5 linked regions of the Homo sapiens genome follow. The protein of the gene in region 2 interacts with the protein of the main gene of each other region in a pairwise test. Each region holds a gene or a part of one and is shown on either strand. Other genes may lie near its edges. The genes, in order: FLACC1, TXNDC5, EFEMP1, LHX4 and MGAT5B.

Region 1 (3,520 bases), on a different chromosome or scaffold from region 2:
TTATTCTTTTTGTGTCTATAGTGAATGGGATTACGTTATTGATTTGGCTCTCACCTTGGACATTATTGGTGTATAGAAATGCTACTTATTTTTTGTACATTGATTTTGTATCCTGAAACTTTACTGAACTTGTTTATCAGTTCCAGGAGCCTTTTGGCAGATTCTTTAAAGTTTTCTAGGTATGCAATTATGTTATCAGTGAACAGAAAAATTTGACTTCTTCTTTTCCTATTTGGATGCCTTTTATTTCTTTCTCTTGCCTAATGGCTCTGGCTAGTACTTCCAGTGCTATGTTGAATAAGAGAGGTGAGAGTGGGCATCCTTGTCTTGTGCTAGTTCTCAAGGGTAATGCTTCCAGCTTTTGCCCATTCAGTAGGATTTTGGCTGTGGGTTTGTCATAGATGGCTCTTATTATTTTGAAGTAAGTTCCTTTGATAACCTAATTTGCTGAGAGTTTTTATCATGAAGGGATGTTGGATTTTATCAAAGGCTTTTTCCATGTCTATTGAGATGATCATATGGGTTTTCTTTCTAATTCTGTTTATGTGGTGAATCACATTTATGGATTCACGTATGTTGAACCAACCTTGCATTGTGAGAATGAAGCCTACTTGATCATGGTGAATTAACTTTTTTTTTTTTTTTTTTGAGTCAGTGTCTCATTCTGTCACCTGGGCTGGAGTGCAGCAGCACAATCACAGCTCATTGAAGCCTCAACCTCCTGGGCTGGAGTGATCCTCACACCTCAGCCTCCTAAATAGCTGGGACCACTACACCTAGCTAATTTTTTATTTTTTCTGTAGATGTGGGGTCTCATATCATGTTGCTTAAACTCCTGGGCTCAAGCAATTCTCCTGACTCAACCTCCCATAGTGCTGGGATAACAGGTATGAGCCACCGTGCCTGGCCATGAATTAACTTTTTCATGTGTAGCTGGATTCAATTTGCAAGTATTTTGTTGAGCATTTTTTTCAGTCTATGTTCATAGGGATATTGGCCTGTAGTTTCTTTTTTGTCTTTGCCAGGTTTTGGTATAAGGATAATGCCAGCTTCATAGAATAAGTTAGGGAGGAGTCCCTCCTCCTCATTTTTTTGGAATAGTTTCAGTAGAATTGGTACCAGTTCTTCTCTGTACTTTTGGTAGAATTTGGCTGTGAATCTTTCTGGTCCCAGGATTTTTTTTTTTTTTTAGTGTTAGATTATTTTATTACTGAATCAATTTCAAAACTCAATATTGTCTATTTGGGGTTTCAATTGCTTCTTGATTCAATCTTTGGAGGTTGTGTTTCCAGGAATTTATCCATTTCCTCTAGATTTTCTTGTTTGTATGCATACAGATGTTCATAATGATCTCTGAGGTTCTTTTATATTTCTGTGGGATTAGTTGTAATGTCACCTTTGTCCTTTCTAAATGTGCTTATTTGGATCGTCGTTTTTTTCTTTGCTAATGTAGCTAGCACTCTATCGGTCTTGCATTTCCTTTCAAAGATCCAACTTTTTGTTTCATTGATTCTTTGTATGGGTTTTTGAATTTTGATTCCATTCAGTTCTGTTCTGATTTTAGTTATTTCTTTTCTTCTCCTAGCTTTGGGGTTAGTTCTTGTTTTGGAATGAACATTTTTAAGGCCTTTAATATATATGGCCAAATTGCCATCCAAAAAGAATGTATCACTCTGCACTGCCACAAGCAAAGCATGGAGTGCTCCCGTCATCTCAGAATAAAACCCATCCATTTAATCAGCTCATTTGATGAAGGCCCAGGAAAACAAAGTTAGGGCATGATTCTTACTAGGTAGATGAAGAGAGTTAAGAGATGGCTAGTGGGGCGGGAAAGGACTGAAGCCTCAAGCCTTCATCCTGTTTAATTGTGAAGTATAGTGACCAACTAGTTCTAGTTGGCCTGAGACTTTCCAGGTTTTAGCACTGAGAGTCCAGAGTCCCAGGAAACCCCTAAGTGTCAGGCAGACAAGGACACTTGGTCGCTCTATCAAAAGTTAAACACCAGTACCACCTCTAAAGTTCTATTTACCACTTACAATTTCAGTTTTGAGCCTGTGTCTAAAACTCATTTTTTTAAGATACTCCTTGGTATATTCAGGGAAAACATCATAGAACAGAGCCTAAGACGTGTGAGTGGTAAATAGAATAGGTCGGGTGTGAATCCTTCTGCTAACCTGAAAAATAAGGCAGTCAGCGTCCTTGGACCCTACTAGTGTCATCCAGGTCCAGGGCCTTCCCCCTCCTAGGATTCCATGTTCATGAAATCTGAGCCAAGCAACAGTATTGGTATTAGATTAGGCTTATTTAACCTCAACCACAAAAGAAAGTTAGATTTGCTGAGAAAAAGTGGACATTCTCTGAAAAACATCCCCTTATTTTCTAAGTGTTCAAATTAACTACTAGGTATTTCCTTTCTTCTTCTTTTTTTTTTTTTTTTTTTTTTGAGACAGAGTCTCACTCTGTCACCAGGCTGGAGTGCAGTGGCGTGATCTCGGCTCACTGCAACCTCTGCCTTCTAGGTTCAAGCGAGTCTCCTGCCTCAGCCTCCCAAGTAGCTGGGACTACAGGTGTGTGCCACCACGCCCAGCTAATTTTTGTATTTTTAGTAGAGATGGGGTTTCACCATGTTGGCCAGGATGGTCTTGACCTCTTGACCTTGTGATCTGCCTGCCTCCACCTCCCAAAGTGCTGGGATTACAGGTGTGAGCCACTGCGCCCGGCCTCCTTTCTTCTTGTGCTATTGAAGAGGGATTTGTGATTTAGGGGGAGCTAACATATGATCCTTCAACATGGAGAACTCTACCTTTCTTCAAAGGAAGCTCAGTTCTAGTGGGGCAAACACTGTGCATAGTTTGCCCTTGACCTTTGGGTTCCATAAGCTCTCTGTTGGGCTGGGCTGGAATTTACTTCTCACCAGTCACCCATGGAGGACCCACTCAGTGAGGGCCCCAGGTAAGGGAAGATGCACAGAACATGGTGATGGGCCCTGGCCACTGTGCAATGCCAAGAGGAGTCCTCCCTGAGTTGAGTTTTACAGCCTCTCCAGGTCACCTTCATTTTAGGACTCTTTTCTTCATGGTGCCTTTGTACCTCCCCAGGACAGTATTTATGATGAAATGGAAGAGAAGTGGTCAAAACAGAAGGCGAAATGGAAGAAGGATGAGAAGTTCGAGCGAGAAAATATCCTGCTACAGCAAAGTGAGTACAGAAACTCTAGCTTTTTTGATGACAAGTGCATTAAAAAACTGCCATGAAGTTTGGTCTTGACTTGAGGAAGGTGGCCTTGGGCTTACCAAGGGTGATGGGCCACATGCTAGATACCTGAATGGAAGGTGCCCAGAGTTTTCATGAAAGCAAAATGACAACAAGGGTAGGGTCTTTTTTGAAGTTCAGGCATCTGATCTAAGAGAGTCTAAGCCTGTACCTTCTGAAACTCATTTGGTCCAAGTTTGCCCATGATGGCTGGAACAAATGTTAGAATCCCTGTAGGGAGTGCAGACTTATTATCTAGAAACAGATG
Region 2 (3,520 bases):
AAGACAATTTGTCACTTTGTACATTCTACTGCAATTTTTGTATTTCCATGTTTGCTTCTGTATTTTTTCTTGAACAGTTATACAAACATGTTTCATCTCATTAATGATTTTATATATTTATGTGGTCTTTATGTTGATCATGTCTTATATTATTTTATCATGTGGATTTGCCATAATTCAACTCTAATTCTGTCAGTGGATATTTAGGTTATTTATACCTTTTCCATCATCAGTAATGATGTAGGGAACAAGTTTATCTTTGTAAAGGACTTTCCACCCCCCCTTCTTTTGAGTGATATTTTTAGAATATAGTATTCCCAGACATAAAATTATAAGGCCAAGAATAAAAAAAAAGATCATTTTTATGGCTCTTGATGAATATAGCCAGGTTTCTTAAGCACCATATCAGCTTATGCTGCCACTGTAGGGCAAGACGTGACCTGTTTCTGGGATGCACTGTGGTGTTCCCATGCCGGGGGACTGCTCTGGAGTCTGCCAGGAACCCAGGAAGCAACTAGAGGCCCCGCATGTGCCATAAATGAACACTTCATACTGAAAGGCCCTTGAACATCTCATGGAGAGTGGCACACGGTATTTTATTTCACCTTATGTGCACCCATTGACTGTTCACTTAGCCATTCTTCCCTTGGGCATTGTTTTGTGTGGGTATTTAGCACTTTGAAAGTCTTGACGCGCTGGCAGCAGAAGGGAAACTTTGTGGTTCTTTATGATTCCAGCCCTGCACAGCTTTGAACTGTCAGCACCTTTAAAGCCTTTAACAACTTAGCTTGGATATTCTTTTTAATAGGAATATGAACCCCCAGATAAAAGCTGAGTAATATACACTTAATGTGTCTGCAGCAGAACACTGATTCCATTATCTTTCCCTCATTTCTGGTTACTTTGGTTGGAAGCCACAGCTGTACCTGGTCTGAAAAGTTGAGAAATGTAGGATTGTGACTAGACAGCTGCACACATTGCTGTCTGCTTGGGTCCTGGCAGAAGCATCTTTTGAAAAGCCCCTTTCCCCCTCTTTCTGTATGAGACTTAGTCATATGAATTACATTCTTTCTTGAAGGTGCAGCTTATGTTCATGCCATGGTTTTCTCTCTGTTGCCTTTCATTCACCTGCATTTTCCTTCTCATCACCTCCTTTTCTCTCTGATCAGTCTTCCACAGTTGTGTCTTCCTCACAGTTTTCCCTGTCATTTGTGTAAAGTAAGGATAACCAGGCCTTCCTGGTCCCTGAGTTTCTCATTCTCAGCTTTGTCCATTTTGCTACCCTCGTGTCTGTTTGTGTGTTTTTTGAGGAAGAGTCTCACTCTGTTGCCCAGGCAGGAGTGCAGTGGCATGTTCTCAGCTCACTGCAGCCTCCACCCCCTGGGATCAAGTGATCCTCCCACCTCAGCCTCCCAAGTAGCTGGGACCACAGGCGCACGTCACCATGCTCAGGTAAATAAAATTTTTTTTTTGTAGCGATGGGGTCTCACTCTGTTGCCTAGGCTGGTCTTGAACTGCTGGGCTCAAGCAGTCCTCTTGCCTCAGCCTCCCAAAATGCTAGGCTGTCACCTAGGCTGGTCTTGAACTGCTGGGCTCAAGCAGTCCTCTTGCCTCAGCCTCCCAAAATGCTAGGGTTACAGGCACGAGCCACTGCGCTGGGCACTCTGGTGTCTGCAAGTGCTGACCCCTTCAGAATACGTCCATTGGGCGTTGTATTTTGTATTCTTTGTGAAGTATCCAAGTACGTTTCAAAGAAGAGGACAGGGTATAGGGTAAGACTGTCCTTTGCATTGTCTGCTTTGTTTGGTTGGGTTTTGGGGTAGGGACAGCTATCACTTGGCTGCCCTGGAGACTCAGACCTAGAGCTTTCACTGAGGGTGAGGCTGACGAGGGGGCTTTTTGCTGAAGCTTCCAGAGGGCTTGACGAGATCAGTTCCTGACCTGGCCTCACTCAGCACAGCAGCATCGTACAAGGGTTCCAGGTTGTTGGGTGAGGGAGGCATCTGCAGGCGGTTCCCCACAGACACAGTCACCTCCTGGATGGTTTCCCTGTGTCTCCACTGACACACCCATGACTGTTTTATTTCCTCCTGTTAGACACCAGAGCCGGAAGTGGAACCGCCCAGTGCCCCCGAGCTCAAGCAAGGGCTGTATGAGCTCTCAGCAAGCAACTTTGAGCTGCACGTTGCACAAGGTAAGGGGGACGTCCTGATGCCAGCTTCAGAGAATCACTATTATTCCTTGGCGTGCTGGGCTTTTCCTTCCTGCTACTCAAGGGCTCTTAGATAGCAGCATCAGTGGCACTGACAAAGGGTCACTCTAGAGGAGCTGTTGGGACCGTTGTTCAGTGCACCTCCTCTAAAACATGAGTTCTCCTTTTGTCTGTGCCCTTATAGAAACGCCGAGTCTAATGCTAAGCACACGTGACCCGCACACTAGCTGGACAGTGCATCCTTGGCTAAGAGTGTTTATTGACAGACTCACCTCGCTTGATTGCTCTTTACTTTATTGCACTTTGGAGATACTGCATTTTTTTACGGATTGAGGATTTTGGCAGCCCAGCATCTGGCAGGTCTAGCGGTTTTTCCAGCAGCTTGTGCTTACTTTGTATCCCTCTGTCAGCATCTTTTTAGCAATAAAATATTTTTTAATTAAGGTACATTGTTTTTAAAGAAGTAATGCTGTAGCACATTTCATAGACTATAGTGTAAACATAACTTTGATATTCACTAGGGAACCAAAAAATTTGTGTGACTTGTTTTATTGTGATATTATCTTTATTGCAGTGGTCTGGAACCAAACCCACAGTATCTCGGAAGTATGCCTGTGTATTAATGATAATCATATGCTTAATGACCTCAGGCAGAAACAAAAGCTTCTCTCTGTCTAAACAGAATTTAGATTGGGCACAGTGGCTCATGCCTATCATCCCAGCACTTGGGGAGAACAAGGTGGGATGACTACTTGAGCCCAGGAGTTCGAGATCAGCCTAAGCAAGACCTTGTCTCTACAGAAGATTAAAAAAAAAAAAAAGGCTGGGTATGGTAAGCGCACTCCTGAAGCTGAGGTGGGAAGATCACTTGAGCCTGGAAGGTCAAGGCTGCAGTGAGCTGTGATCATGCCACTGTACTCCAGCCTGGGTGACAGAGTGAGATCCTGTCTCAGAAAACAACCAAACAAAACCCAGAATTTAATGACACCGTTATAACATGAATCAAATTAGTTACTCTTTACACTTAAAAGATCTTTCTATACCACATCCCATTTTTTGCAAATGGTCTCCTAATATCAGAATGATCCCCATAAAATTTCCAGTGTGAATACATAAGTCTCCCTTTATTCACACATAGATGTGTTTCAGAAAACTTGGCCCAACACCGAATGACTTGAAAGCAATTTTGGCTTCCTGGCCGGCTCCCATTACCAAATGCTACCATGGAGAGAAATCCCCTTAGAAGACTGGGTTGGAAACGTGAGAAATGGCTTGGATTGCCTCTGGCCTTGTGACTTGTGCCTGCTG
Region 3 (3,178 bases), on a different chromosome or scaffold from region 2:
TGTGCTTCCTCTGGACAGTATAATCCACTCCCAGCATGCTTCAGCTTACTGAAACCAGATTTCTAGCCTTTACCTTTCTCCCAAGTTCCTGAAAGAGATGATAAGCTGCCCTCCATAGTTTATGCTTCCTGATTTCTCAGCTTGGAAAGCCTTCCCTGCCCCAGCCATGAAAACTCCATCTAACCACCACCCTTCAAGGCCACGTTGAGATGCCTCTTCCTTCCTTCAGCCTTCCCTAATCCCCCTGGCAAAATTACCCAACTCTGCTCCACATGCCCCAGTATACTTATCTATCTCTTACTTAATTCCATTTTACTTTCTAAGTAATCATATACACATTCCCTCAATTATAATGTCCCTGATGACAAGAACTGGTGTTTAACTTTTATATAGGCAGAGTCAGTGGTTAACATTGGGGTTTGAATTCAACAGATGAACAATAGGTGCTTGATAAAATATCATGAAATGACACATATTAATCTGCCTAGAATGTCTCAGCTCTGTCTGTCCTGAATTCAATACAATGAACACCCAGTCTTGTGTCTAAAAGCAGGTTGAACACAGTCCAGATGCTCTCACACCTCCTTCCTTGCAAACAGAATCTGCCAGTTATATGATTTAATTAGATCAGTTCATTAGTTTAGTTAGTAAACTCTTTGACCCTACATCTCTACAGATATAAATGAGTGTGAGACCACAAATGAATGCCGGGAGGATGAAATGTGTTGGAATTATCATGGCGGCTTCCGTTGTTATCCACGAAATCCTTGTCAAGATCCCTACATTCTAACACCAGAGAAGTAAGAAAAATCAGAACTTTTGAAAGTGAGGATTTTCTGGTCTTACCAAGCCAAACTGCTGAATACTTTTGTTTGTCTCTGCAGCCGATGTGTTTGCCCAGTCTCAAATGCCATGTGCCGAGAACTGCCCCAGTCAATAGTCTACAAATACATGAGCATCCGATCTGATAGGTCTGTGCCATCAGACATCTTCCAGATACAGGCCACAACTATTTATGCCAACACCATCAATACTTTTCGGATTAAATCTGGAAATGAAAATGGAGAGTTCTACCTACGAGTAAGTATCCTGAAGGCAGCCTTAACTATTGAGAAAGATGGGAGTTTGTTGTTGTTGTTGTTGTTGTTGTTGTTGTGTGGTATCCACATGTGGAAGGAAAGCAAACATTTAAAGTGTCTTATGTGTAGGCATTGTGTAAGGCCTTCCAGCTACATTATTTCATTTATTCCTCTTGGTAACACTGCCAGATAGATATTAATATTCATCTCCATTTTTTACAGAGGAGAAAAGTGAGATGCAGAAAGATTAAGTAGCATCCCTGAAATCACTCAAATATTAAGTTTGGCAGACTCTGATAGAGTTGTGTGTGACCACGAAAATACAAGCCTCCCATCCCCCCGCCTCTGCCCCCACCCAACATACCCCCCAAGTAGGTATCACTAATCATTGATGGTTAATTAATTATACATAGACATACATATAATTCAAACCCAAAATAATTCCTGGAGCTCCTAAAGAGTTTTTCAGACATCATGAATTCATCATTGTTACATTCACAAGACAGTTTGTGTTCACACCGAAACTAAAACCTATAAGTATGTGAGAAGTGACCCCACCTCCCCGCACAGTATGTGTCAGTAGTTGTACCATTCTTGCCAACTTCTGGGCTGGCAGTATGGAGTCATCTCCCTATCTTTCATTGCCTGTGTGAAATCTACTTTCTGAATTCTGCCATTTCCCTCTTCACACTGTCTCCTGGGTTATCTTTGCTTCCTCACATCCCTATCTCTCTTCCTATAAACTGGCTCCCGTCACTTCCATGATCCCTTCAGTGGCTTCTGAGCTGGTCTCCCTGACCCCAAAGCCTCAGCCTTCCAGTCTCCCTACAAAATCTCAGCAAGTTCATTTTAGGTTAAAATTTGGACATATTTTAAATACGGCTCACCACTTCATGTGAAAATGATGGCACCCTACCAAGCAGTTTGCAGAGTTACGGTAACTGTTTCATGCTAATGATGTTATTCATCCAGTTACAATTTTCTCAAAACTCCTTTGGGCACTCTTTATTTTTAATCAAATTTTAAAGCCAATATTTCATTTTGAGAATATGAATTAAATTGGGAAATTCATCCTTGTGGTACAGTTTACAGATTTTTAATGTTTACCCATTTATCCTGTTTTTTGATATATTAATTTCCCATATAGCTCCAGAGTTATGTGATATTATTTCTTTGCCAGTATATTAGAAAATGATTAATTTCTCATGACCAACTTCTGAAAAGAAAGACCCAATGCAAAATGCAATCTATTACAATTATTTTTTTGAATAAAAAAGAATATATTATAGTTCTTTAACATTTGATATTTTAAATTTGACATATTCTTGATATTTGTAAGAAATTTCCACTGAATGAATTTTACACAATTCAGATACTACCAATTAACTAATTCTAGCCTAAACAAATAACATTATTTTTAAATAACAAAATCTTTAAAAATAATTTTCTATTTTGAACTTTTAGCCATAATGTAAGAAAATAAAATTTTCTAGCAGAATAATCAAAGAGTGAAACAAAGTTCCAACATGTTTTTTCTTTGCAATTAAACATGGCACTTTTACAGTTATTTATTATTCATATCAGTGCACTTACCGACTTCATATTTTCAAATCAAAATACAGTGTTTTTCTCCAGTGAAATCCTTATTCTCATGACTGATAGAAAACATTGCCAATTTTGATATTTCCAGAGTTAATGTTAAATTATTTGAAAGAAAATTATTTAAAATAATAAAAATAGACATTTCAAGACTATTTCTTATCACATAATTCAAAAAGTACTTGGATCAAATCCTACAGAGTTTCTCCACTAAAATTCTACTTGTGCAGAGGGCATTGAAACGCATGAAAATCAACAGCAGGTTAGTTAGGTTAATTAATTCGGTTAATTAAGCACCTACTACATGCTCAGCTCTATGCTAGGTGTCATGAGGAATTAAAAGGACATGTAATGCACATTTTCTGATTTCAAGGAGCTTTAAATATTATTGTGTAGAAAAAGTTAACATCTATGAAAATAGAAGTGGGGCAATTTTGTGCTTAATTCCATGGTCCAGATACATCAAAAAATCAATGTGGGCTGTCAAAGAAGGTTTCTTG
Region 4 (3,520 bases), on a different chromosome or scaffold from region 2:
TTGGGACGCATAGGGACTTGGAACCAGTTTAGCTGAAGAGAGGACAAAAGGAGTAATATTACCCACTTTGAGAAACCCACGGTTGGAGACAGACTGAAGCAGCAGTTTGCTGTGGCAGCACCAAATACATGGCTGCATAGACGGCTGAATTTGGAGAGGGCTGGCTGGGGTGCCGTTGAGGCGATTTTACTTTTGTAACAATGTTTTGCCTTTCTCCCTTCCTGGAATGAGTGTTAACAATGCCCATAACAGAGATGTGGGCAAATAGGGTCCACTGCTTTTAGTAAAATTCCATCGCGGTCTGGTGGCTTGAATTTCTCTTTCTTCCTCCCTCCTTCTCCTTCCCCTGTTCCCCCAATTTCTTCTGTCTATCCCTTCCTTCCTTTGCAAAATCTTTGCAGGGAGAAACATGGGATAGTGCAGGAATTCACGACACAGGGGTTTTACTCGGCGGGGGGGGCGGGGAGGAGGGCGGTCGTGTGTCCAGCAGGCTGCACCGTGGTGGAGCCATCTCTCTTTCTAGGCGCCCTGGGAGGGAAGCACAGGTGCTGGGTATAGGACAGAAGCCGCCCTGGAGCTGGGCTCTTATTGTCTGTGGTAGGAAGAAATCAACTAAAATTAGATGCCACTGTGAGGTTTTACCTTATTTAGTCCTCAATTTTATAGGATCCCTGATCAAAATGGAGCACAAGTCAACCATTTTGAGGCATTGCTTTTGGGGGTAGGTGGACAGGTTGGGTTTAATTGGTGAAAATGAAATGGATTCTCCCTTGGAAAATGGACTTTGGGGTTAACTGTATGAGCGGCTGACTGGAAAGTCGTCTTGGGAGGTGAGTCCTACCTCCTGCTGTAATTTTGGTGGATTTCTTTTCTCAGATCTCCCCACCCTGTTCCCTCTGTCAGTCTGGGTCTAGCCACAGATGTTTAACTGCAGTACCTCACCCCCACATGTCTTTAAAGTATAATTTGCTTTAATTATGATGTTAGGGGGTTAAGAGATTGGTTCTGGGAATAGCTTAATAGAGACAAAACTTGCAGCCAAATTAATTGAAAGTTTCTTGCTATGAGGGAAAGATTGCCAAACATATGGAATACTGTTACAGAGTGAGACATTAGAAAAATACATTGTAGAGATTTAGCAATGATTAAATGTGAAAATGGAGTGGAAATAGACGTGTCTACAACATTTCCATACACAAACATGGATTTGCTTAATGTAATTTTCTGTTTTATTTGCAATTACTGAGATATATGATATCCTACTGAAGAATACTAATTACGTGACAATATATCACCTAGGAGATAATCCCTGCAAATACATATTTACATTGTGTATTTCATTTGTTACTCGACTCCTTATGTTAAAATATCCAAATTACAGCCTTAAAATGATAACATCGAAATTATCTCCAGTTTACTTTTGAATTTGTTCTTTTATTGAAGAGGTTTCTATTTTTGACTAAGCCGAAAAAGAACAAAGGAGATTTTCAAAGGCACCCCAAGCCACCAAATAAAGCAAACAGTAAAAGTGGGAAGGATTCCGGAAAGCAAGTGAAGGGAAAGGACAGCTTCAGGTGTGATCATTTCTGATGTAAGAAGGATTTTCTGACTTTTTTTCTGGTTGCTAGTCATTTGTCAAGACAAACTAGAAAAAACTAGAAATTAGATAAAAAGACGTGAGTACACTGATGCATTTTAAAACATGTCAGTGCATATGATGATAGAGAATATGATTTACCTTCAATGCGATGCTAATTTTTAAAATTAGAATTTTTCTAATATTTTTGTGGCTGGCCCAGCTCTCTTTCTTTAATGCTGCTGTCATCATTGATGTTCAATGTGCCTTTTCTCTTTATGTTTTAAAGAATTAATGTTGGAATTTTGTGCTTTAGCTGTGTTATGTGATTATTACTAGGTTGTGAAAATCCCTTAAGAGGAATTTTATAAAAACATTTTGGAAAATTCTGTTATTGTCTCTTCAAGATACGCTGATTTAGAATAAGTGAAAATATAAAAACGAGAACTATAAACGGTTCAACAAAAATGAATGTTCTTTAATGACAAAGAGCCAGGGTTGGGGGGCGGCACACACCAGATTTGTCATGGAAAACTGAGTCGTGGGCCTCAGGTTTTCCCTGCGTGGGGACTGCATGGATGAATCAGGCCTTCTTCCTTTGGTCACAATTACCAGGTGATTTAAAAGGGGAATTGTGACCAGAAAACAGGATTTTATCATCAGCGGTGATGGTGGCTACTTTGAAATGGAAAGTTTTATTTTTGAAATATTTATCCAGTAATAGACCTCTTAGTTAATTTAATTTTAATGTAACTATACCTCCGTTATAAATCTTTGACCTGGACATTTCAGAACTCAGGTATGTGTTTAGGCAGGTGTGCCACAGCTTGGTATATCCTGTAGCTTCACCTTGTTGATGCATTTTAGAATTAGTTATTCCCCGACTAAATCAATGAGCCCCCCACTGACAGTATTTCCCAAGCCTGCCTTTAGAAAACCATCTTCCTTCTTTCTTACTCAGGGAACCTGAGGCAACAGAACAGCAATGTCTGCAATTTGTTGTTTTCTCTTCCTTACATGTGGGAAAGGAATGGAAAATTTCAAGAAAAACATTTGCATACTATTTCAGTTGCATATGTGATTCCTTAAAGCCCCATTTGGCGTCTCCTTTCAGTTAGTAGTCAGTAAAGAAACTTAACAAATAAATAAAATTAAACGTTTTTGGAAATACATATTGGCCAAATGTTATTTGAGACAGAGCTCAAAAAACTGCTTACTTCTGGAGGGAAATCACCAGCAAAAAGGTTTTGGGCAAAAATCCCAGATGGAGGTGGCTTTGATTGAGCACAGGTGGAAGCCATCAGACCCAGAGTAAAAGAAGGTTTAGTCCTAATTCGGCCTCAAACTGTGTACCCGTAGGGAAGCCCCTTATTCTCAGAACCTTTTAAACGTAGACAATGAATGTCCGCTTCACAGGGTGTCTGGGAGGAGGGAATGAGCTTGCCAATTTGAAAGTACTTGACCAAGTTTGGAGTGCTGGTGGTCTTAAGGCACTCAGAGACTGGGATCACAGCTCCCATTTCACAGACACAGCCGCCCCTGGGAGCACTGCTGGCTGTCCCAAGAGGATGGCCACCTGAGGGGGAATACTGTGGGGTCTGCAAACAGGGAGACCCGGAAGTGGCTCCCATGGACCCAGCTCCTTTTCTCGAAAGGAGCAAGAAAAACCTTGTCCTGAGCATTAGGCTGTCAAGTCAAAGCATGAAACAAAAAGAACACTTCATCCAGAAGGCAGTTAAAAAGCAAAGGGAGTTAAAAAGCAAAAGCCTCACAGGAGGCACATCAAGCTGGCACATCAAAGTACAAACTTTACAAAATATTAATCTGGTCTCAGAGCATCGTTAAATAAACATTATTCCCTTTTAAAATTATTATAATAGAGGTAGGGGCTCACTATGTTGCCCAGACTGGTCTCGAACTTCTGGGTTCAAGTAATCCTCTCAC
Region 5 (3,520 bases), on a different chromosome or scaffold from region 2:
ACAATTGGACTAGAGGTGTGTGTGCATTCGTGTGTACATGTGCATGTGTGTGCATGTGTGTGTGCGTGTACGTGGTCTTAAACTTTTTAATGGGGTATCATATACACAAATGAACAATCCATGCAACTAACAACCCAGAGCAAGGACCAGAACGTGATCAGTCCCCAAGTGTCCCCATGCCACTTCACAGTCATTACTCACCCAAGGATAGTCACGACTTGACTTCTGATCACATAGAAGAGTTCTGCCTGTTTTTTGGACTTTGTGAGCATGGAATCGTTTCAGGAGTTGATATGGTTTGGCTGTATCCCCACCCAAATCTCATCTTGAATCGTAGTTCCCATAATCTCCACCTCTTGTGGGATAGACCCTGTGGGAGGTAATTGATTCATGGGGGTGGTTTACCTTGGTGCTGTTCTTGTGATGGTCAGTGAGTTCCCACAAGATCTGATGGTTTTATAAGGGGCTTTTTCCCTTTTGCTCGGTACTTCCCCTTCCTGCTGCCATGTGAAGAAGGACATGTTTGCTTCCCCTTCCACCATGATTGTAAGTTTCCTGAGGCCTCCCCAGCCATGCTGGACTCTGAGTCAATTCAACCTTTTTCATCTATAAATTACCCAGTCTCAGGTATGTCTTTAGTAGCAACGTTGAGAATGAACTAATAGAGGAGTAGTCTTTTGTGTGTGTCTTTTCTCTCAGTAGTACATGTGTGAGACTCACTATCTTGTATGCGGTTGTAGTCACTTGCACTTTTTTTTTTTTTTTTTTTTTTTTTGCTGTGTAGCCTTCCATTGTGTGAGTACACCACCATATTTTTATCCATCCGACCATTGGTGGGCATTTGGTCGTTTCCAGTTTTGGGCTTTTGCGAACAGTGCTGCTATGAATATTTCAGTGCACGTCTTTTGGTAAACATACGTAGGCATTTCTGTTGGGTATACCTAGGAGTGGAGATTCTACGTGTTGTAACATTAGTTCTCAGACCAAGTTTATCCAAGCCAGTCTTTTCACATTTCCCAGGCCTCAGAAGCTGAGTGCCTGGAATACAGAACTGAAGTCCGGGAGAAGGAGGAGACAGACAAGAAAAGGGCCGCTGAGAACCCAGGAGAGCTGACCCTGATTCACTTTAGATCCCGACTCGCATTGTCCTCCATGATTTCTTTCATACCCTTGGATCAAGCTAATCTGCTTGGGCAGACCCAAGGCAGGGACTCAGGCCGGGAAAGCAGTGTGCAATGTGGGTTTAACATCCTGATCCTGCAAGAGAAGCCCCTCAAACTACATCCCCACGCAGTGCCTGGGGCAGCCCTGCAGAAAACCTAGGAGGTACCAGCATTTCCACTTAGGAGATGCCTGAGGGAAGGATTAGGGCTTCACGGGGAGGTGCTTGGCAAATTGCTTGGCTGAATCAGGCCTGGGGAGGGATCTTGGAAGTCCTGGGCCAAGGTTGGATTGTTGGATAATGCACGTTTTGTTACCCAAAAGAAATCTGCGGAGTCTAGACAACCCCAGAGCAGAATCAGGAGAAGGAAACCCTCTAAGGCCCTGCTATTTAGAAAAAAAAAAAAAAAATTGCATTGGTCAACAAAACAATCTGTGTACAAATGGGAAAAACAATCTCTCCTCCCCTGTCAAACCGGTGACAGAAGTGGGGTCCCACATGGACTGTGGCTGCGAAGGGAGAGGGAGGAGAAGGCTTTTCTCGAAAAGAAGAGGAGGGCGTCATTCAGCCTCTTGTGGACTGTGGTCTATGTGTGGGGCCTCCAAATTCTCCTCTGTGCCTGTTTATACTTCATGATAAACTGCGTACTTTGGGGATGAAATGTGACTGACATCTCATTCTGTATTCTGCACACTCATCTTAAAGATTCAAGAGAGGAGGCTGCATGGGGAATCATGACCCGGAGGAGATCTGACTTCTTTCCCTCTTGCTGCATTTGGGCTGGGCCTGGGCTCTGGGGAGGGCTTTCCGGCATTGCCCCCTCCCAGGCAGCTCTGCCCCACTTCCCACCCCAGGTCCTCCTCCTGTTTCCTGCCCTTCCAGCCCTTCTCGCCTAGGCCTCCTTCCCCATGTGGCTGCAGATAGTGCTGTGAGGCTGTTTCCTGCCCTCTGACTTGTCTTGAAGAAGCAGTGGTAGGAGGCTGGGTGTGGTGGCTCACGCCTGTAATCCCAACACTTTGGGAGGCTGAGGCAGGTGGATCACCTGAGGTCAGGAGTTCGAGACCAGCCTGGCCAGCGTGGTGAAACCCCATCTCTACTAAAAATACAAAAATTAGCAGGGTGTGGTGGCACGTGCTGTCATCTCAGCTCCTCGGGAGGCTGAGGCAGGAGAATTGCTTGAACCAGGGAGGAGGAGGTTGCAGTGAACTGAGATTGCGCCACTGCACTCCAGCCTGGGTGACAGAGCAAGACTCTGTCTCGGCTTAAAAAAAAAAAAAAAAAAAAAAGTAGTGGTAGGAGGCTATCTTTTGGGAGGGGTCTGTAGGCTGAAGGTCCATGGCACAGCTGCATGTGTCTACTGGGCCCTGCCAGACCTCCCAGGCCTCCACCAGGGATTGAACCTGGGGAAGGCTACCTGGCTCTGTGGATGGCTCTGGCTCTGGCTCTGGCCCTTGGTACTAAGGGGCCCTGGGGCTCTTCTCTCAGGCTTGATGGATGGGGGACCGGGGCCCGGAGGTCTGAGGAAGAGCCTGGTGTGGCCTCCCACGGCCTGTCCTTGTCTTCTCTGCTGCCCGGAGCCCAGAGCTCCCGTGGCCTCAGCTGGTTTCTGCGGTGAGCGAGTACAGAGAGATAAATGTGCGCATTTCTCCAGCTGCACGAACACCCAGTCACAGTTCCCTTCTCAGTGCCAGGGAGGTCTCTGCTTTCTGGAGAGATGGGGGCTCATTCAATTTCCAATGGTAAAGGGTGGGGATGGGGACAAGAAAAGGGGGACGAAGGAGGATGAGAGAGACAGAGAGAGACGAAGAGCGTCTGGGGAGGAGACGGGGCCTCGGTGGGTAATAAACACATCCCGTCTGTAAATGAGAGGATCTATTTGTATCTCCCAGCGTCCCAGCTTTCCTTATTTATATGGAAATATGGAGGGAACGTGTGCCTGTTCTGAGTTGTATCACTGGGGCCTCACATTAGATATATTTCAATTTAGCTGATGCCAAGAGTGGTGAAGTGACTCTGGGGAAGCGATGTCAGCTTGCTCTGCTGACAGTCCCGGGGCCAGTGGTGGCTTTTAGGGGAGTGGGTCACTGGGGGAGAGTCGGCCTGACCTGCTTCCCTCCTGGGTACCCACCCCCTGCCTAGTCTTTGGGCATTTCCAGAGCACAAAATGTGCCTGGTACCCCGAGGGCTCATTGGGAAGGGGTAGGGGCTGTCTCCCCAGGTCTCAGGGGTTTCTGGAGTTCCATGCCATCTGCAGAAGATGGGAGCAGCTCCTGAGCCCCTGGCACGGGGGGACTTGGTCCAGTCTGATGGGGTGGGGCTTGAAGAACTACAGAAGGGGCATCTGGTTCCGCAGGCATG

The links.
Region 1: the proteins of TXNDC5 (region 2) and FLACC1 interact in a two-hybrid assay, tested with the Homo sapiens proteins (one large-scale study listed by BioGRID).
Region 3: the proteins of TXNDC5 (region 2) and EFEMP1 interact in a two-hybrid assay, tested with the Homo sapiens proteins (one large-scale study listed by BioGRID).
Region 4: the proteins of TXNDC5 (region 2) and LHX4 interact in a two-hybrid assay, tested with the Homo sapiens proteins (one large-scale study listed by BioGRID).
Region 5: the proteins of TXNDC5 (region 2) and MGAT5B interact in a two-hybrid assay, tested with the Homo sapiens proteins (one large-scale study listed by BioGRID).

What each region holds. Positions count from the first base shown.
Region 1 is NC_000002.12:201,308,829-201,312,348, reverse strand, and holds part of FLACC1 (flagellum-associated coiled-coil domain-containing protein 1), read left to right. Parts: intron 1-3,098; coding exon 3,099-3,198; intron 3,199-3,520.
Region 2 is NC_000006.12:7,893,780-7,897,299, reverse strand, and holds part of TXNDC5 (thioredoxin domain-containing protein 5 isoform 1 precursor), read left to right. Parts: intron 1-2,097; coding exon 2,098-2,194; intron 2,195-3,520. UniProt on the Homo sapiens protein: Protein disulfide isomerase of the endoplasmic reticulum lumen involved in the formation of disulfide bonds in proteins. Can reduce insulin disulfide bonds.
Region 3 is NC_000002.12:55,868,622-55,871,799, reverse strand, and holds part of EFEMP1 (EGF-containing fibulin-like extracellular matrix protein 1 precursor), read left to right. Parts: intron 1-676; coding exon 677-800; intron 801-884; coding exon 885-1,080; intron 1,081-3,178. UniProt on the Homo sapiens protein: Binds EGFR, the EGF receptor, inducing EGFR autophosphorylation and the activation of downstream signaling pathways. May play a role in cell adhesion and migration. May function as a negative regulator of chondrocyte differentiation.
Region 4 is NC_000001.11:180,236,763-180,240,282, forward strand, and holds part of LHX4 (LIM/homeobox protein Lhx4), read left to right. Parts: intron 1-3,520. UniProt on the Homo sapiens protein: May play a critical role in the development of respiratory control mechanisms and in the normal growth and maturation of the lung. Binds preferentially to methylated DNA.
Region 5 is NC_000017.11:76,874,904-76,878,423, forward strand, and holds part of MGAT5B (alpha-1,6-mannosylglycoprotein 6-beta-N-acetylglucosaminyltransferase B), read left to right. Parts: intron 1-3,520. UniProt on the Homo sapiens protein: Glycosyltransferase that acts on alpha-linked mannose of N-glycans and O-mannosyl glycans.